5 separate regions of the Homo sapiens genome follow, and regions 2, 3, 4 and 5 are each reported to be linked to region 1. Evidence: microRNA targets listed by miRTarBase, many of them from high-throughput screens and not tested one by one. Region 1 holds a microRNA gene; each other region holds the end of a gene's coding sequence.
Evidence for each region. Region 1 holds the annotated microRNA hsa-miR-411-3p (UAUGUAACACGGUCCACUAACC, at 2,029-2,050, opposite strand). A microRNA usually pairs through its seed, bases 2 to 8, with sites in the 3' UTR of a target mRNA and lowers its output. Matches are read on the target gene's strand: a 7mer-m8 pairs with bases 2 to 8, a 7mer-A1 pairs with bases 2 to 7 and ends in A, and an 8mer does both.

Region 2: the mRNA of NETO2 is a reported target of hsa-miR-411-3p. Seed matches in the 3' UTR shown: 7mer-A1 at 1,075-1,081, 8mer at 1,525-1,532 and 7mer-A1 at 2,232-2,238.
Region 3: miRTarBase lists AZIN1 as a target of hsa-miR-411-3p. Seed matches in the 3' UTR shown: 7mer-A1 at 3,120-3,126 and 7mer-A1 at 1,189-1,195.
Region 4: miRTarBase lists CERT1 as a target of hsa-miR-411-3p. Seed matches in the 3' UTR shown: 7mer-m8 at 3,096-3,102.
Region 5: the mRNA of NRF1 is a reported target of hsa-miR-411-3p. Seed matches in the 3' UTR shown: 7mer-A1 at 852-858 and 7mer-A1 at 2,164-2,170.

Annotation. Positions count from the first base shown.
Region 1 is chr14:101,021,132-101,025,424 of GRCh38, reverse strand. It overlaps MIR411 (microRNA 411), which reads right to left and starts at 2,100; the gene lies at 2,005-2,100. It overlaps LOC124903407 (mucin-2-like), which reads right to left. Exons shown (of 5, transcript XM_047432049.1): 5 at 1-4,293. It overlaps MIR379 (microRNA 379), which reads right to left and starts at 3,359; the gene lies at 3,293-3,359. It overlaps MIR299 (microRNA 299), which reads right to left and starts at 1,631; the gene lies at 1,569-1,631. It also overlaps MIR380.
Region 2 is chr16:47,079,832-47,083,831 of GRCh38, reverse strand. NETO2 (neuropilin and tolloid like 2) reads left to right here. Exons shown (of 9, transcript NM_018092.5): 9 at 31-4,000. The coding sequence ends at 611. Among named protein-coding and RNA genes, the nearest start is that of NETO2, 62 kb to the left of the region's middle.
Region 3 is chr8:102,825,123-102,829,415 of GRCh38, forward strand. AZIN1 (antizyme inhibitor 1) reads right to left here. Exons shown (of 12, transcript NM_148174.4): 11 at 4,150-4,293; 12 at 1,186-3,556. The coding sequence ends at 3,445. Among named protein-coding and RNA genes, the nearest start is that of GASAL1, 20 kb to the left of the region's middle.
Region 4 is chr5:75,375,458-75,379,750 of GRCh38, forward strand. It overlaps CERT1 (ceramide transporter 1), which reads right to left. Exons shown (of 17, transcript NM_001379029.1): 17 at 2,318-4,016. The coding sequence ends at 3,889. Among named protein-coding and RNA genes, the nearest start is that of HMGCR, 40 kb to the left of the region's middle. RefSeq lists a silencer at 4,213-4,293.
Region 5 is chr7:129,754,669-129,758,961 of GRCh38, forward strand. NRF1 (nuclear respiratory factor 1) reads left to right here. Exons shown (of 11, transcript NM_005011.5): 11 at 350-2,408. The coding sequence ends at 513. It also overlaps the pseudogene RNA5SP244. Among named protein-coding and RNA genes, the nearest start is that of MIR182, 14 kb to the right of the region's middle.

The DNA of each region.
Region 1 (4,293 bases):
CCCTGTAAGGGTGGGACCGGTACTGAGTTCTTGGCTGGTGGACCAAATGGCCAATGTAATAAATAAAGGACTGGGTCTGCAGCCAACCACCCGGTGACCTGCACTGCACCCTGGCTACCACTCAGGCCTGGCTCTCAAGTCGGCATGGCCTCCGGGAAGCCCCAGGGCTGGCTGATACTGAGAATGAGTGGACCATGCTACATCTGTCATTCAACAATGCATATGCTTTATGCTCTACCATCTCTCCAAGTACTGTGGAATGGCGCTGAAGCCAGATCAGTGTGTCTCCCACGAAGGTGACTTTGCCTCTCTCTGGGAAGCCCTCTATGACTGAATTTGATATTGAGAAGATGTGGACCATATTACATACGACACAGAGATAGCGCATGTTCTATGGTCAACCATCTTTTCAGGTACCTTGGAGAGGGCTGAGGTCAGAGCCGGTGTCTCTTTCCTCTCACTAGCATCACCTCCAGGAAGCCCTCTGAGGCCTGATGTAGTATTGAGAAGAGGCCACCATGCAATGTCTGCCGCAGATGCAGTGGACGCAGCACAAAGGAGCCCCTCAAGAATGGAGATGATGCTGGAACTAGTGCTATGACTGACACTCGTTCCTGCCTACAGAAAGCCCCCCGAGGTGCACGCTGTTATAGGAAGGTGGACGAAGTAACATGCGTTGTAAGTAAAACATATGAAGCATGGCCAACTTCTACTAAGTACCCCGAGGCAGTACTTGTACCAGAACTGGTGCTTTGTCTCCTAAGCTTAACATAACCTCCCTGGAGACTTTCCAGGCTGAATGGGATACTTCAAAAGAAGTAGACCATGTTACATACGTCATGGGGAAAAGACATGCAGTGTGGCTGAACCCTTTTCAGGTACCGTGAGGTCAGTGAAGAGGCCAGAACCAGTGCTCTGTCCCTGAGGCTGGCAGCTTCTTCAGCAAGTTCTCCAAGCAAGGGTTCTGGGATGGAGATAGGGAAGAAGTGGGCCATGGAGGCACTTCCTCTGTAAACATACACGATGGGGTCGAGCAGCTCTTCATGAGGATCAGTGCTGAGTCCAGAGCTGGGACATCTTCCCCCGAGATGGCTAGACTTGAGATGGAAAAAAGATAGACTGTACACGCATCAGCAAAGACAAAAACGAGTCAGTGCGTCTTCAAGTACCTGGAGTGGCATCATCTCCTGGACCCATATCTGCTCCTACATGGGCGTACTGTCCTGAAGTCATCTGAGGAGGGCTCTGAGGATGAGAGGTGACCTGTTTCACATCCCTCGTTCATGAACATTTGCGGCACCAGCCACCGTTTCTTCAATTACTCCAGAGGGATGTGCCAACGTGGGCAGTAGGACACCTTCCTGGAGGTCATCCTTGTCCTGAGGAAGTCACTGGAGGCTGTGTTTGGCACTGAGGAGAAGACCGCATCACAAGCATTGACAGAGAAAGCACACATCTAAGAGTCTACCATTCCACCAAGTGCCATGGCATGGCGGATGCCGAGACCCGTGGCTCTCCTCTAACTCCAGGCTTTCTCCAGGGAGGTTTGGATGGCTGGGCTGGATACCAAGAAGCGGTTTACCATCCCACATACATATTCAAAATGTATGTGGGACGGTAAACCATTTCTTCAAGTACCGCACGATGGTGGTGGTGGTGGCTGGAAGAAGGCTCATGTCCACGAAGTTGCCTGAGGGCGCTTCTTCTAGGCTGCATTTGACGCTGAGAAGAAGCAGGTCACGGTGTCTACTGAATAAGCGTAGCGTAGTCAACCACGTCATTGAGCACCATGGAATGGCACTGATTCCGGGAAGAATCAAGGTCTCCTCCCCAGGGATGGCGCGATTTCCCAAGGCAGAACTTGATTTAAGAGGAGCGAGATTATGCCATTTTGCATCATGCAGAAAAACACATGCCATACAGAAAATCATCTCTTCGGGTGTCATGGAGAAGTGGTGGTGGGTCCAACCGTTCCTCCCCGAAGACAGCGTTGTTTCCAGGAGCCTCGGGGATGGATTTGATACTGAGGGTTAGTGGACCGTGTTACATACGTCACAGATAAAGCGTACGCTATACGGTCTACTATCTCTCCAAGTACCACACAGAGATGCCGAGGACAAAGGCTCAGGACACATCCAGAAAGCCCTCCAAGGCCTTGAGCTGGGTGGAACCAGAAGGGAGGTTGAGCACAGCACATGCATCATGCGACAAGCACACACAGGCCAGGAGTCTCGTCTTCATGGTCGGGGGTTGACATGAATGCTCGAAGCAGTGGCTCATCCCCAAAACTGGCAACTCCTCCAGGAAGCCCTTCGAGGCCGAAAGTCCCACTGAGAAGAAGTGGACGATGATATGGATTTCATCACTCCATAAATACTGATTAAGTGCCTGCTGTGTGCCAGGCGCACTGTGCTGGGTCTGAAGGAGTGGGTAGATGGGAGGGAGGACATGGCACATGGCTAACAGAGCTGGTTAGGGGAGTGGGGAGAAAATCAGAAATACAAAATGGCCCACGTGCAACCAAAGAACATCCATCTAGTTACACTAACCAGGCCAAGGAAACAGTACTGGGCACCTGAGGCCCAGATCTTACCTATTAGTGAGCTCTAGTCTTGGGCATTAAAAAAAAAAAAAAAGTGCCCTAAGGCCATATCTGCCTCAATACCAAGGGCATTTCCAGGAGGTCCTCTTAGGTTGGATTAGATTCTGAGCAGTAACCACCATGCCATCTTCATGAACAAAGCAGGAGTTGTTTTGGTCAACCACCTCCCTAAGGACAGAACCACTGTCTCATTCCCAGACTTGGCACTGCCTCCGGAAAACCCTGAGACTGAATGTAAGATTGATCAGAGGTGGACATTGGTATAAACAGAAAACTTCAACACAGGAAAGCAACTCTTCAATGCCACACAGCGGAATGAAGGATGGACTGGTGGGTCCCCCTGAAGGTAGTATTGGCTCCACGAAGCCCTCCAAAGCTGGCAGGCTACTGGGAAGTGGTAGCCCATCTCACACAAATCCCTCCTTTCGCACAGGCCACATGGCAAATCATCTCTTCCAGAACCACGGCTGAGGCTGGAACCGGTGTCTTGAGCCCAAGTTGCATCACTTCCAGAAAACTCCCCAGAGAGTGCATTTAGTGCCCAGAAGAGCCAGGCCTTGTTGCACAAGTCAGACATCAACCATGAGCCACAGAAATTGCCGTGGAGCAGTGCTGAAGCTAAACCACGTGTTCTCTTCCCTGAAGTTGGCAACACCTCCAGGAAGCCCTCCGAGGATGGATTGGATACTGAGAGTTAGTGGACCATGTTACATAGGTCAGAAATCATAACGCCTACGTTCCATAGTCTACCATCTCTTCAGGAACCACGGAATGGTGCTGACCCCAGAACCAGGGCCTTGCCCCTGAAGTTGGCGTCACTTCCAGAAAGCTTTCTGAGGCTGGATTTGGCATTGGAAGCAGGCACATGGTGAACATAAACAACCCCTCCTCCAATGTGGGGCAGTGGCATTGATGGGGGAAGGGGTGCCTCTACCCTAAGTGGTAATTCCTCCAGGAAGGCCATGTCAACTTGGAAAGACTGCGACAAGGCAAAATGTACAATACTGACCATGCTTTGGCCATTATGTGGTCAACTATCTCTTCATCAAGATAAAGGGCAGTGTTTTGTTCTGCATGGCAAATGGGACACTCCAAGAGCACAGTTCATCATATAAAAGGGGACCCTCAACCTCTAGGTAAAAACTTCCCTAGCTCACCCAAGTTCCGATGGTCCTCGCCATGCTCTAGACCACCTTTGGAGACTCAAACCACAGAGCTGAGTGGGCAGTGCGTTCCTCCAGCTCCTGATTAACCTCTCCACCTCCTTCAGGAGGTCTTCCTTGATTTTCTCCATCCCCTTTCATGGCACAACTATCCCATGTGAATGGAATGCAAAGCAATGATTTGTTAGCCTCCAGGGAAAGGACAAGGGCAGAACCCTCAGCAGCCCTGCAGGACAGCTCGGTTGTCCTCTAAAGTCCTGAACCCCAGTGTAGACGGGGCCCTGCAACTCAGTTGTTGAAGTCCTAACTCCTTAGGAAGTCATTCAAGGCATCATGCTCCCCTGCTCCCTCCAAGTGTGAGCTAGTCTAGTCTAAGAGATTACCCTCCATACCCCGTGCATTGTCCACATGCCTTTGCTGGCACTACTCCTCCACCCAGACCCCGTGTCTGCTTACATCTCTCTGAAGCCCAACCAAATGGCAGTTCTTCCACGAGCCCGACCCCACCTCAGCCAACTCAGGCCTTTG
Region 2 (4,000 bases), not on the chromosome of region 1:
AACTTAACGTTTCTCATTTTCTTTCTGCAGAAAAGAAAAAAGCAGGAGTATTTGAACAAATCACTAAGACTCATGGAACAATTATTGGCATTACTTCAGGGATTGTCTTGGTCCTTCTCATTATTTCTATTTTAGTACAAGTGAAACAGCCTCGAAAAAAGGTCATGGCTTGCAAAACCGCTTTTAATAAAACCGGGTTCCAAGAAGTGTTTGATCCTCCTCATTATGAACTGTTTTCACTAAGGGACAAAGAGATTTCTGCAGACCTGGCAGACTTGTCGGAAGAATTGGACAACTACCAGAAGATGCGGCGCTCCTCCACCGCCTCCCGCTGCATCCACGACCACCACTGTGGGTCGCAGGCCTCCAGCGTCAAACAAAGCAGGACCAACCTCAGTTCCATGGAACTTCCTTTCCGAAATGACTTTGCACAACCACAGCCAATGAAAACATTTAATAGCACCTTCAAGAAAAGTAGTTACACTTTCAAACAGGGACATGAGTGCCCTGAGCAGGCCCTGGAAGACCGAGTAATGGAGGAGATTCCCTGTGAAATTTATGTCAGGGGGCGAGAAGATTCTGCACAAGCATCCATATCCATTGACTTCTAATCTTCTGCTAATGGTGATGTGAATTCTTAGGGTGTGTACGTACGCAGCCTCCAGGGCACCATACTGTTTCCAGCAGCCAACCCTTTTCTCCCATCACAACTACGAAGACCTTGATTTACCGTTAACCTATTGTATGGTGATGTTTTTATTCTCTCAGGCAGTCTATATATGTTAAACCAATCAAGGAACTTACTCTATTCAGTGGAAACAATAATCATCTCTATTGCTTGGTGTCATTTATAGGAAGCACTGCCAGTTAAAGAGCATTAGAAGAGGTGGTTGGATGGAGCCAGGCTCAGGCTGCCTCTTCGTTTTAGCAACAAGAAGACTGCTCTTGACTGATAACAGCTCTGTCAATATTTTGATGCCACAATAAACTTGATTTTTCTTTACATTCCTTTTATTTTTCCTTTCTCTAAATTTAATTTGTTTTATAAGCCTATCGTTTTACCATTTCATTTTCTTACATAAGTACAAGTGGTTAATGTACCACATACTTCAGTATAGGCATTTGTTCTTGAGTGTGTCAAAATACAGCTAGTTACTGTGCCAATTAAGACCCAGTTGTATTTCACCCATCTGTTTCTTCTTGGCTAATCTCTGTACTTCTGCCTTTTAATTACTGGGCCCTTATTCCTTATTTTCTGTGAGAAATAATAGATGATATGATTTATTACCTTTCAATTATATTTTTCTCAGTTATACTAGAAAATTTCATAATCCTGGGATATATGTACCATTGTCAGCTATGACTAAAAATTTGAAAAAGATAAAAATTTCTAGCAAGCCTTTGAAGTTTACCAAGTATAGTCACATTCAGTGACAGCCCATTCATTCCAGTAAAGAATCATTTCATTCACTTTGGGAGAGGCCTATAATTACATTTATTTGCAATGTTTCTCTTCGCTAGATTGTTACATAGCTCCCATTCTGTTGGTTTTGCTTACAGCATATGGTAACCAAGGTTAGATGCCAGTTAAAATTCCTTAGAAATTGGATGAGCCTTGAGATTGCTTCTTAACTGGGACATGACATTTTTCTAGCTCTTATCAAGAATAACAACTTCCACTTTTTTTTAAACTGCACTTTTGACTTTTTTTATGGTATAAAAACAATAATTTATAAACATAAAAGCTCATTGTGTTTTTTAGACTTTTGATATTATTTGATACTGTACAAACTTTATTAAATCAAGATGAAAGACCTACAGGACAGATTCCTTTCAGTGTTCACATCAGTGGCTTTGTATGCAAATATGCTGTGTTGGACCTGGACGCTATAACTTATTGTAAAGACCTTGGAAATGTGGACATAAGCTCTTTCTTTCCTTTTGTTACTGTATTTAGTTTGTGATAAATTTTTCACTGTGTGATATTTATGCTCTAAATCACTACACAAATCCCATATTAAAATATACATTGTACCTGACCCTTTAATCATGTTATTTATGCCACCAAGGTTGTGGATCTTAAGGTATGTATGGAAAGGAACTCATTTATCAAATTGTAAGTAATACAGACATGCCATTTAAAAGAGGTAAATTCTTGTTTTCTATATTTTGTTAGTAAATTCTCAATGAAATAAGTTGAAGTTTCACTGGATTTCATTAACTTTTAAATATTACATATATGTGTTTTCTCAGATTAGTGAAAATTGTGACCTTAAATTTAATACACATATACTGCCTCAGAGTGCTTTCTTGTATCAAAATTTTTGTTTTTTAAAAAAGTAGATAATATTTAGGAGACAGAAAAACCTATACATAATGTATTCATGATTTAAATTTTTTTAAGTCAGCCTAGTTTCTTGTTTTAAAAATATAACGTGGAAACATGAAAAGACTTGATGCATATAATATTCAATGAACTAATACCAGAGACAGCTAAGTTTTTTCAGTAGTTATGCTGAATAAGCATTTTAGTAGGTAACTTACACCAGCTAACATTTGAACAGCATAATAAATACTTAATATAACAACAACTATGATCTTATGATGATAAAAGGGAAGTTAGCATATTTTCTATGTAAAATTATTCATTTTTTAAAATAGCTGTTAAACCTATATTTAATCTTTAGATTATAATAGCAAATAATACAGTATGCTAAACTATAGTCACTTGTAACTACATTTTTGTTTTTGAAATTTGATTTCTATTTATAAGGTCTTGAAGAGGCCTACAAAATACAGAGCCTTTAAAGAAGACATAACAGTAAAATAGAAGTACACAGTTTTATACGAGTCAATGTAGCAAGTAACATTTAGACAGTAAGTTTGGTTCTGAATTTTCTGGCTGCTAAAACACTTTTTGCTTTTCACAGTAAAAAAACTTATGTGCAGAGGCTAATTTCCTCTTGAACTACAGCATGAGGGTCTGTATATAGGAACATTTCTTCAGAATGTAAAAAAGATGCAAAATGGAGACAGAGGTTATAATGGTGCTTCTTAACCCAGTGAAGGCACAACTTAATGTCGTCTAGGAACATTGGTTTAGGGTCAGTCTGTATTTTCAGGGATAGAACTAAAGAACCAGATGATCAATAGCTAAGCCAGCCTTAGCCTGTCACATGTTATACACCTTCATTGAATCATAGATGGGCATTAGATCTCATTTATTTATTAAACTTCTCTATGCTTTTGGAAGAGGTAAGAATGGAACTAATAAATCTTAGGCATTATTGCCAGAATAATGCTAATTGCTGTATATACAGCCTTTAATCTTTGAGATCAGTGAGAAAACTTTATAAATTGCTTACTAAAATGAAAGCCATAAAATTTAATAACAGAAGACATGAAATTTAGCAATCTTGTGGAATTCATTACACAGTATTAACTGTCACGCAGGGTACCCCACACAGTGTCCCAGTGTTGAACACAAAATGCAAATCTGGAAGGGATAAATATCTTCAATTCAGAAACAGCATTAAGTATACCTGTATAATACTGTCACCATTATCTTCCATCTGCAATTCACCGCATCATCCCCCAAATGCCCACAGATCTATTGCAGGAAACCTACTAATCCCAACATCTAAAGCATGTAGGAATAAGATGTGATATTCCTTTTGTGTGTGGGGAGAGTGTCAATCTAAACGTTTAACAAAAGGCAAAGAATGTTCACATTTCACATCACAAAAGAGATTTCAAAGACTCCTTTAACCCGACAGCGCTTATGTCAGTGTCTTTGTCATGTTTCATAGAATTGTTAGACTTTAAAAGAACCTCCTGAAAGTCTGCCTCTGAACATTTGTATGGTTCTGCCAATGTCTGATGAGAAGAATGCTTCCCTGTTTGAGGAGTGTGTTCACTGATGAGAGGGGACGGGAGAAGCCTGGTTGTGATTTCAGGAATAATTCTCAAAGGAGATTATACTCTTATTGCAAAATGGGGT
Region 3 (4,293 bases), not on the chromosome of region 1:
AAAGAGATCTTAATACCAAGCTATCAACCACTGGCAGTATCTGCCATTTGCATCCATGTGCCAGGCACTTTCAAGGCCTGGTAAGGTTAAGTTCTAGTGTCTTCATCCTACAGACAAGAAACCAAGGCCCAGAGCAACTTGTCCAAATCAGTATAATCAATCTAATAGGTAATAAGGGTCGTTTATTGAGCCCTGTGTGCCAGCCAGTTCTAAGCACCTTGTAACTGTTACATCCTTATAACCTTATGAAGCTGCTACTTTTACTACCATCATTTTCTTTCTTTTCTTATTAGAGATAGGGTCTTACTTTGTTGCCCAGGCTGGAGTGCAGTGGTGTGATCGCGGCTCACTGCAGCCTCCACCTCTTGGGCCCAAGCAATCCTCCCACCTTGGCCTTTTGAGTAGCTGGGACTACCAGCTAATTTTGAATTTTTTTGGAGAGACACAGGTCTCCCTACATTGCCCAGGCTAGTCTTGAACTCCTGAGCTCAAGCAATCCTCTCACCTCAACCTTCCAAAGTGCTGGCATTTACGAGCATAAACCACTGTGCCTGGCCTTACCACGATTTTCCATCTGGGAAAACCGAAGCACAAAAGGGTTAGGTGACTAGCCTATGTTCATACAGACAGTAAATGGCAGAGGCAGGATTTGAGTCAAGCAGACTGGAGGCAAGGTCTACACCTTTAACCACCACCCTATACTAGTGCATTGCCTGAATAATTAAGTAAATCTTTGAATTTAAAGTTACTCCCCAAAATATTAAGTCACCCAGTTAACTAAAGTGTTCAAAGAACAAAGAGATGATGCTTTTCATTTCAGCAGAGTTCAGAAGACTTCTTAAGGCCAAGACAGGTTAGGAAACTAAAATATATACTCTAAAAAGAAGAAAAAAGGAATTAAGCAATGTGTGGCTTCTCTAACCCAGTATTTCCATTTAATGGTATTAATGCCCATATTTACTTGGAATAAATCTAGCTTAATTTGTCAATCTATTCATTTAGTCCGGGTTTTAAATTGTTAGGAGGCTAGTGAACTGAAGTGTCTAGAAAAGGCTGTCCTGGAAACAGTGCTCACATATATACTGGACTTTACCAAAATTTCACTGTTCTATATATAACTTCCAGCATTTTTTAGCAGAATCAATTTTCTTTCTAATAAAGCAAGATTGTTAATACACATAAAGCTGATATGTAAAATTTTACCTCTATTTCAGATAGAAGCCAAAGTAAAACATGAGGAATAAAAACATTTATCTATGTATTCAGAATCACACACAAGTTACCTTTACAGTTCAATTTACTATATAGAAATCATTGGGTTTTATATTTGCAGTTAACTTTTGAACTGAGATTACAATATTATAACAAAAAACTTTACATTAATTCAGAACTTTTTAGCATACCAAATTGAAATACATAGGTTCAAATTTCAGATTTATGGCAAACAGTCTTCAAATACAATACAGACATTTCTTAAAAGTTACCGTATCATTCACATGTGATATTTGCAACTCTGAGCTATTTCTTATAGAACAGCTCTCCTGCAGATATGGCAAAGTTGATATGCCATGAAGTTCAAGGCCTGTATAGTCAAGCCAAGGACTCAAAGTTGCACCATCTTTAAAAAGGTTTGGCATTTCTGGACCACAACAATGCACAACATGTAAAGAAGGTAGGAAACAGTTCCCCCTCCTTGTTAAATGGTTAAAAAAAGTTACATGGTAGCTTGGAATTTTGCATAAAACCCCATAATATACCTTGGAAAAGTCCAAGGGCAATTTGATGGCAATGGATTGGGGCCCTATATATATATATTTTTAATAGAACCCATGAGATTTAAATGGGCATTAATCAAATCAAAAAATATTAAGCACCTACTGGTTTAAGAGATTTAAATTTATTAGAGATTCATGATCAATTTCTTTCCACCTCGAAATCAAGGTGTAAAAACCAGCTATTAAGTGCATTCCAAACTTCTCCTATGTAGCACAGGTAGAATTTTCTGTCCATTGGCACCAAAGTGAAGTCACATTTCCTCTTGGGAGACAGAAATTCCACACCTGAACACAGAGTAAGTTAGGAAAAAATGACCCCTGTTGTTTATTACTATTGTGATTCTGAGATCTAGGATTTCTAATATACTAGCAGTAAACAAAGCAAATTCCTGGCAACAACTGTCAGGTTAGTGATGCTAACTCCCTTCCCCCAACCACCATAAAATTTTAGTAAGAAAAGAATTAAAAGTAATGACTAAGCAGAACAAATTGGAAATAACAAGAAACTAAGGGGACAGTTCAAACCAACAACAAAAAATCCTAAATTTGAAATCACTGCAACTGAAGATAATAAGTGTGCTTCACCCCAACCCCCATCCCAACTCTGAATTTAAACATTCCGTGCAAAAGAGCAACAGGTTTCTGGATAAAGATGTAGCCCTTCTTTAAGTTTTAGTGCTCTGCAGTTTTCTGCAATTTTATTTCCCTCCCCCCAAGTTTATTCAAAGTATTTAACAGAATCTTCCATTTCAGCCAAAAGATTGTGATTCAAAGATTTACTAAGGTACTCTATGCATTCTATCTATACAGAAACACCTATTTATTATTACAGTTGATTTATGCAGGATTAACATTTTTGGTGTTAAAATTGTTAAACATCATGCTTACTGCACATCAACTCTCCATAATGAATCTGAACTTCACAATGATTTACCAAACACTTTACTTAAATTACTAATTAAATAAATGAAAAATGCACCGAGCCAAACAAAACTTAACTGGGCTATAAAGAAAAAAACCCTTCAAAACAGTCCATATACACATCTATTTCAAAACTACCTTTGCTAGCTAGCCCCTTTCCCAAAGTTTTAGCCTGAAAAAACAGTAAAATCTACACAAAATTTTATTGCAATCATACAAGGGTTACATTAGGTCAACAAATACTATGATGCAATTTTACATTTATTAAACTACAGTTCAAAGCACAAATTTACACATTCTAAATACACTAAACGTTATCTAATGAAGTCACACTGGTCTTCTAACATTTGATATATCTGGGTGAAAGACATGAACTTTACAAGACTTTAAACACAAATCCTTAGTATAAAAACTGTGTTCTTGTATGTAAACGATTTAATGGGGAACCCAATTAATGGGCTTCCATCTCCACTAAGTCATCCATTTTGTTGCATATTTTATTTTAAACGCTTAAGGGGTAGGACAAACTGGTAGGTTTAAATCTGGATACATTATCTAAATCTCCCATTATCCCCAATGAATTATAGATGAAAGCTGATTTTGTCTGGTCCCAAATAGCTATTACTAATAGTTTTTGTTGCCAAAAGAATTAAGAGAATAAGATTGTTTAAATTATTTTTCCACACTGGAATGTTGACCAGACAAGCTTAACCTGCAACTTCAGATCTAAAGAAGCGTTAATGCCTGTTTAAGCTTCAGCGGAAAAGCTGTCTTCTTGGCTCAGCTGAATGCAAGAAGGCACAAAGAAGAAGTTCTTCATCATTGAGTCTGAAGTAATTCCAGCATCTTGCATCTCATACCTACGTAGAAAAAAAATCAGCTAAATTCTCAGTTTAAGCCCAAAGACCACGTAATCACATAACAAATGGATAATAAAACAGGATTATAACTAGTCTTCCAAAAACCTTTAAAAGATCATCATTTTTCTATGATAGTCATGCACTGCAGAGTGATGTTTTGGTCAAAGACTACACATATGACTGTGGTATACCGTAAAATTACAGTGAAGTTTAAAAAGTCCTATCACCTCGTTACATCGCAGCAATCATGTCATAGCACAATGTATTATCCTTTCTATGTTTAAGTAACTTAAGATACACAAACGCCACTGCATTACAACTGCCAACAGTATTAAACAGAGTAACATGCTGTACAGGTTTGTAGCCTAGGATCAATATACCACATGGCCTAGATTATGTAGTAGGTTATGCCATCATACAATCGCCTAATGTTGTATTTGTCAGAACAAATTCCCATCATTAAGTAACTACACTGTATAGGCAATACATGACTGTACTTCTAAGTTTAGCATTCATTACAGAATTAAAACTTATTAGCAAGTCTAAAAGGACAGTTCAAATATCCCATCTGCCTTAAAATAAAATCACCTTACCAATCACTGAATGACATCATGTAATAAATGGCTGGCCTCTGAAAATCATTAAAAGCAGATGGTTCATGGAAAGAATCTGCTCCCATGTTATCAAAGATAAGCCAATCTCCCACATTCAGCTCAGGAAGAAGACAGCTTTCCACA
Region 4 (4,293 bases), not on the chromosome of region 1:
TGCCTATAGTCCCAGCTACCCAGGGAGGTAGGAGGAACACCTGAGCTTGAGAAGTTGAGGCTGCAGTGAGCTGAGATCGCTCCAGTGTACTCCAACCTGGGCGACAGGAGTGAGATGCTGTCTCAAAATAAATAAATAAATAAATAAATAAATAAATAAATAAATAAATAAATAAAATAAATAAAAATATATATTATATATAATATATATATAAAGTTTTTACTGTTAAACAACTTTGGATCTTATTAACTCTTTACAGAACTTTCTCTAAAGATGATACACACATTATTGAATGTTACTATTTTTTTCCATCACCAAAATTAAGAATGTTCGCTTTCCTAGGGTTTCAATGCTGGGTTCGACTTCATACATTTATCTTCCATAATTATTGTAAAAAAAAAAAAAAAGTTACGTTACAGTAACAAAGATTTTACCATGTTAAGGTTTGAATTTGGATCTTTGTTAGAAAGAAGCTCAATCTGGACTCAAAAAGCCAAATCTGAGTTTGGGCCAATGAATCTTTTCAGCTGTATCTTTGCACACATATACATGTACCCACAAACAATAGACCTCTCTTCCCCAGAGATGAATTTTTTCAGATTCCAAGCTCCTCCCTCCCAGGTCCACAAATGAAAAATCTGTGAACATACACATGCACACACACAGAGAGTCAATGAAACACCGCTCTAAATCCAAGTCTAGAAGCAAATGCTGCTAATATCCTACCATTTATCTTTCAACTGTTTAAAAAATTATTCTTCTCAAATATAATTGAGAGCATGTTTTACACACAACTGCATTCAGATTTCTCTTGCTTTAATACAAAGTTGTATTTCTGCCTTGCTTGGTTGAATATCTGAGAACCTTTGGTAAGGAAGTCATCATAAAGCATCAAGAGGGAGGCCGTTTCAGTGAGGTCATAGTGAAGAAGAGAGAAGGCAGATATAGTTAGAGTGAAACAAAATCTGGTCTTGGATAGAGTGAAACAGCACCACTTTAAAAACCCTAGAGGCCATGGCAAAGAGACACACAGCGAAGCAGGGTGATAAGCCTGTTGCTGTCACGTGCCATCAGTTTTCTGGTTTATTTGATAAATATGGCACAGACTCAGAATCGATAAGAAGTAATGTGTCCAGATCTAGCTATAACAATTCTAAAGTACAAGATATAAAAATTGTCAGCACACTGAATGCAGTGCACTTGTGCTTGAAGAGAGAATCCCTAAAGGGTAAGGCTATATTCCAAAACACCAATCATTCAGGTAACTAAGACTGGAACCTATTTAATATTTTCAAATACCCTTTTTCCTGGGATAAAGCTAAACAACTGAGACATCAATGCAATATCCCTTATGTTAGTATGGGATATTAGTTAGTATCGGACAATAAATTTAGCTTTTGCATTTTTTAAAAGAAAGACATACTATAAACATCATTAGAAATCAGACTTGTTTAAAATTATTTCATTATATAATTGACTATTATTTTTAGCTAAAGAAAAGGACTCAAGAATATACATTTCTCAGTCAATTATTTAACATCCAGTGTAGGTGAGAATGAGAGAATATTCATGTTATTGCTTACCATTTGTGTATCACAATTGGCAATATCTACTAATATTTTAAATGTTATTACAAAATAGAATTTATAGAAATAGTACTATACAAAAGATTCTCAATGGACTAAAGCAGGCTTAAACTCAGTCATAAGAAGAGGAATACAATTAAAACTACACTGAGAGAGTATTTTTCACCTAATGAGTTGGGAAAGTTATAAAGTTTTGTTTTACACGTTGTATGAAAAACTGTGGGACACAGGGACTCCAATTCATTATTGCTGTTGAGATGGTCAATTACTATAACCTCTATGAAAAGTAGTATCTAAATTATGCACAAACCCCTAGCAGGGCCAGTAGTACCACATCTATTAATTTTCCCACATATAAACTTGCAAGTACAAAATGACATATGGATACAATTATGACACTGCTCTGGCAGAAATTGGAAACTGTAATATTCGCCAATGCAGAACTGATTAAATAAATTATGTACATCTATACAATGGGATACTGTATAACCATCAAAATGAGGAAGCTCCTTACAAATATGTGAGACCTTCAAGATAAAATAAATGCAAATATAAGATGTTGAACAGTGTTTATAGTATGCTGCTGCTTCTTTAACAACAAAAAAAGTGTATCTGTGTAGAAAATACACTTGTATTTGTTCATTCAAGCATTAAAAACTTTCTAGAAGAAACTAGTAATAGCATATGTTAATACTATATGGTGAATGCAAGACAGGGTAAATTTTACTGTATAACTTTTTCATACTTTTGACTTTATTTATTTATTTTTTGACAGACATTACCTGTCCAGGCTGGAGTGCAGTCGTGTAATCACAGCTCACTGCAGCCTCAAACTCCCAGACAAAGCGATCTTCCTGCTTCAGCCTCCCAAGTACCTAGGACTATACATGTATACCACCACGCCTAATTGTTTTTTGTCAAGATGGAATCTTGCTATGTTATCCAGGCTAGACTTGAACTCCTGGCCTCAAGCCATTCTCCCACCTCAGTCTCCCAAAAAGTGTTGGGATTACAGGTGTGACCCACTGCACCTGGCCACTTTTGGCTTTTAATCATGTTAACGTATCACTTACTTTAAAAAGTTAAAGATTTTGGGCTGAGTGCAGTGGCTCACGCCTGTAAACCCAGCATTTTGGGAGGCCCAGGAGAGCAGGTCACCTGAGGTAAGGAGTTCGAGACCAGCCTGGCCAACATGGTGAAACCCTGCCTCTACTAAAAATACAAAAATAGGCTGGGCGTGGTGATGGACGCCTGTAATCCCAGCTACTCGGGAGGCTGAGGCAGGAGAATCGCTTGAACCTGGGAGGCAGAGGTTGCAGTGAGCCAAGATTGCACCACTGCACTCCAGCCTGGGCAGCAAGAGAGAAACTTTGTCTCAACAACACCAAAATAAAGTTAAAGATTCTACCTCTTTGCATAAAGGTGTTCAGTGCTGTACTGGTTGACAGTAAAAATATGGAACCAACTCAGACATTAACATGGGACTAGTTAATAAATTCTGCAACATGCATGTAACAGATGTTAAAAGAATGAGATGTTTTACACATCTCATGTCTTATAAAGAAAGATAGTCAAGATACATTGTTAAGTGAAAAAAAGGTTATAAAACAAGAATTTTGTATAATAGTAAGTATAAACATTTTAACATTCAAAAATATGTCAGTACATACACAGAAAAATCTGGAGGAATATACAACAAAAATAACAGTTTCTGGGAAAGGAAAGAATACAGGAAGTTTGCACTTCTACAATTCTACAGTTCTATAATATCAAAATTTCTTTACATAAGCATTAGAAGAAAAAGGAAACAATAAAAGAATTAAGTTTTAAAGGCTATAAACTACAATTTTCAAGGCCAGGCACGGTGGCTCATGTCTGTAATCCCAGCACTTTGGGAGGCTGAGGCAGGAGGATTGTCTGAGGCCAGGAGTTCAAGACCAGCTTGGGTAACATAGCAAGACCCCTATCTCTACAAAAAATAAAAAATTAGCTGAGCATGGTGGCACATGCCTGTGGGGACTCCCAGCTACTGGGAAGGCTGAGATGAGAGGATTGTTTGAGGCCAGAGGTTGAGGTTGCAGTGAGCCGTGATGGTGTCATTGCACTTCAGCTTAGGAAACAGAGCAAGACCCTGTTTAAAACAACAACAACGACAACAACAAAAACCAACGAAACAATACTCTATAGGGGAACATCAAAAAACATAGTAAATACTTTCAACAACTAAATTTTAGTATTGACAGTCATATTAGTCAAATAAAGTTAAAAAAAGATAAAACATATCTTCTAGTACCTGTTAATACTAGAACAAAATAGGCTTTCCTGCAGTTTTTTCTTGGACGTAAGAAGTAAAACGTTTTAGAAATTTAGGATACTCTCGCTTTGCCACTGCCCTTAACACTGAGGCTGGTGCCCATCCTCCAGGGTTCACTGCAAGATAAAGGAAAATTAAAATGTATTAAGATACAATTCTCCAAACATATGTGAAGCACTTAATTTGTTCCCTTGTTTTTAAAATATTCCTCACATTGGACCAATTAGCATCTTTTTTTTTTCTTTTTGAGACGGAGTCTTGCTCTGTTGCCAGGGTGCAGTGCAGTGGCGCGATCTTGGCTCACTGCAACTTCCGCCTCCGGGGTTCAAGTGATTCTCCTGCCTCAGCCTCCGGAGTAGCTGGGATTACAGGTGCACGCCACCATGCCCAGCT
Region 5 (4,293 bases), not on the chromosome of region 1:
ATAGCTAGATTTTGAATGTTGTCACCACAATGAATGATAAATCTTTAAAGAGATTAATATGGTAATTTTCTTGATTTGATCATTCTACAGTGTATACATGCATTGAAACATCACATTGTACCCCATAAACATGAACAGTTACTATATATCAATTATAAATCTTAAAAATTAATGAAAAAAATTTTAATGGGGTGGGAAAGAGATGTCTTTGTGCCTGGGCCATGGGTATGTGATCACCTGAGGCTGGTGACCACGATACCTCAAAGGCAAGACTTGGGTGCCCCCGTCCAGCCAGCATCTGGGAACTTGAGCCTGAGCCCCACCAACGGTCTTCTCTTTGTCTCTCCAGGCCTGGTCCAGATCCCTGTGAGCATGTACCAGACTGTGGTGACCAGCCTCGCCCAGGGCAACGGACCAGTGCAGGTGGCCATGGCCCCTGTGACCACCAGGATATCAGACAGCGCAGTCACCATGGACGGCCAAGCTGTGGAGGTGGTGACATTGGAACAGTGACATACAGCCATATTATGGCATCGTTTTCTAGTCTACTTCAAAATTTTTTACACGTTTGCAGAGGTGCAATCAAATGGAATTAAGTCTCTCGACTTTGGAAGGAAAGTTTTGTTAACCTTTTTTTTTTTAAAAGGAAGAAAGCGGATTTTGGAATTGCATTTTTTAAAGCACCACTCTTGATTTTCTGGGATTGGTGAAGAAACTGCATTGTCAATTTCACTGTCCCAAAAAAGCCAAATTGTGGCAGGACTTCTTTCTGCGGAAATGTGTGTGTATACTTATGTGTGTGTATGTGTGAGTGTGAATATATGTATATGTGTACATATGGACATACACATTTACATATATATAAAGTATATATATACATATATATATATATATATGTATGAAACCCGCATGGAATTATCTGTATGAAATCAAGGTGCGCTGTGGAAACAATAATTCACCCAGTTTAGTGGGTGGTAGGGTACGTGGCCAGACACAGTCACCCAGTTTTTGTTCATACCAGGGTCATGCGTTGAGCTACTGACAAACTCAGGCGGAGGTGACCATGCCCTTCACCAAAGCTGCCTCCCAGTGGCCACACAGAACTCTCCCTGCTGGACTCACCTGAGGAAAGAGGCTCCAGCATGGGGTGGGTCAGAGATGTGCTTGCAAGGTCCAGGGACTGCGTGGTCTGCCAGCTGAGATGCTCCTCGGGCTGGCCCAGGTGCTGACCTTGCCACAGGCAGATGAATGTCTTGAAAGCTCCCGGGCCTCAGCCTCCCATCTCCTCTCCTTCCCAGGAATCCTTGATCTCATGACTATTAAAATGTTGCTCTGGTTTTAAGGTCAGTCCTGAATTGCTCGTATATATGAACTGAAGGTAACCGAAGTATTAGGGGTTTGAGGAGTGCGTGCGTGTAAGTGTGCTTGTGTGTGTGCGTGCATGGTGGGGGAGAGGATGGGAAGGGGGCGGGGGCAGTGGAAGGGAAAGGAAGGAAAGAAAAATCGTCCTAGACCAGGATACACCCGTGGGAGCAATTTTCTCTACTGTCTGTAGCTTCACAGAGGAGGCGCTGGAATGAACAAGAAGAGACATCTGGTCTGTGGCCACAGCACCCTGAACGCCCCTGATCTTGTGTGATCTTGGAAGCTAAGCTTGGTTGGGCCCGGTCAGTACGCGGAAGGGAAGAAGGGACACCTGGCCATAGAAAACAGCTGAGGGTGTTTGCTGTGTTCCTGGATCAGGCCCTGCTTCAGAAGGGACTCCTGGAGGCCCATGTTCCTTGATGCAACCTCGTGGCCCAGGCCGGGAGCAGCTTGCCTCCTCAGAGGTGTTGACTATCTGGGTGTTCTTGGTAACCGTTAACTCTGTCTTTCTCAGCTGCAAGCCCTGAGTCTCCAGTAGCTGAATTCACCTGACTTTTCAACAGGCCAAATCTCTGAACCTTGAGTACAGGGACAGCTCCTCCTCCCTCCTCCCAGCTCTCCCCATGTGTGTGATGGTGTATTTAATGTGTTTTTTTAATGCGACATTAAAAGATTCTCCACGTCTTGCTCAACCTTTGAGAGAAGTTTCAGATTCTTGTATTTGCTTGTTTTATATAAAACTATCTAATGTTCTTTATATGTTCTTTTCTGTACGTAATGGGGGGAGGGGAGGGAAATTTACATATAAATAGTCCTAGTTCTACAATTTGTTATTTTTTTAATTATTATTTTTTATCGTCATTGTGAAGTTGTCCAGGGACTTTAAAGTCCATGTTCCTTTGTGGTGAAATAACCTCCAAATAGTTTGAGAAGTTGCCAAGACGAAGAAAAAAGCAAAACCCCAGTAGCAGAGCATGGATTCTGTGTTGTTTCCCATTCTGTCTTTGACTGCCTCATTCAATAAATAGTTAAAAATGTGGCAACAGGAAGTGGAATTGTTCATCTCTATAGGAGCTCTTGGCTTCTTAGGCAAAAGGAACTCTATCTTGGGGCAGCTCGTTCTGCGTTTAAAATGCAGTCCTACTCGAGATCAGCGGTCTCCGACCTGTGCCACTCCGACGCTGGGGACCTCCGTAAAGAAGACACTGAAGATTGCCCAGAGCCCCCTGCGAGCCCCATCACCAGACCTGCTCCATTTCATACATTTCATATATAACGTGTTTTCTTATACTGACGTTCTGGGGAAAAAATCGTATTTAAAAAATCCTAGGCCGGGCACAGTGGCTCCCGCCTGTAATCCCAGCACTTTGGGAGGCCAAGGTGAGTGGATCACTTGAGGTCAGGAGTTCCAGACCAGCCTGGCCAACATGGTGAAACCTTGTCTCTACTAAAAATAGAAAAATTAGCTGGGCATGGTGGCGGGCGCCTGTAATCCCAGCTATTCAGGAGGCTGAGGCAGGAGAATCGCTTGAACCCAGGAGGCGGAAGTTGCAGTGAGCTGAGATCACACCACTGCACTCCAACCTGGGCAACAGAGCGAGACTCCATCTCAAAAAAAAAATAAAAATAAAAAATGAGGGTGAGTGATGGTGCCTCTCCATCTTGGGAATTACTATTAAAGTGAATTGTCTTTCTTTCTCCAAGCAGAAGCCTCAAGCCATGACTTGTTCCCCTGCATCCTCACTCCCTGGTTTCTCACACAGCTTACTCTCTTAACATGGCATATGCCATCGCTCCAGCTGTTCCTCCTGCCCCATCCTTAGGCCCTTCATAGACCCCAGTAGCCTGCACCTCCATGCTTCTGCATGCCCTGGCCTCAGCCTGGAATGACCTGCTGTCACCCCCACCACCCTTTCTTTATATTGTTGGGTGTCTTGGCCACTTTCCTGGTGACCATGATTAGAATGCTTGCTTGGATGGGAAGGCCAAGAAGCCTTTTCCTTGATGCCTGATGGTGGTTCAGTGAAGCCAAGTGCCTACCTTTCCCCCTTCTTGCACAAATGGCATACCCTCGCCTATTTTTCACCAGAGACTGGACTAGAAAAAGGATTGAGTGCAGCCAAATCAACCACACATCCGTGCTATTGACTACCATGAAATAGCTGGGTTGTTTAGAATACCTGCTGACCAAGGGTCTCTCCAGAGGCGTCTTCTAGCTGCTGTTTGCCTGGCAAGCCTCAGATGCTGCCTTTGCCACAGGCATGTATTGACAACTGGTTTTGGTGGGGCCGATGGAGACCTCTTCCATTCCTGCCTAAGTCACCAACAGGAGCTGCTAACTCCGCTGTCTATAGAGACCAGGGAGGTCAAATCAATGAAGGAAGCTGAGGCAATTCCCATGTGAGAGGAGGGAGTGATGGGGACAGGCACAGTGGACAGCATCCATCTAAACGGGGCAGCCTGTCCTAGGTGCTGATTGTCACCATGCAGGAAGATGGACCCTAATGCCCCAACTTCAAAATTGTCCAGAGAATCTGGGGAATCCAGATTTTTGTACGAGATGTGATCGCAACAAATAAAAAATTTACATACTCTGCAAGCAAAATAAAACCCATCTGTAGACCAGACCTGACCTGACGGTCAGTTGCACTTAACTACGTGAATGCTTGTCATGTGCCAGGTGAATGAAGCATGGTAGTTGCCTGTGAGAAACAAGGAGTGAGGAGGAGACCTTTACATAAACCAACCGCTGCAGTCCAAGGTGATGAGGCACCATCTGGACAGAGCACTAGTGCAGAATGAGCTGTTTACCGCATTTGAGCCCTCAAAGGTCCTCTGTTACGTAGTTTATCATCTAGGCTCCACACAAGGATCTGGTGCTCACAGAAACCAGGAGACTGGTCTAAAAGTTACTGGCTTTAAGTCTTG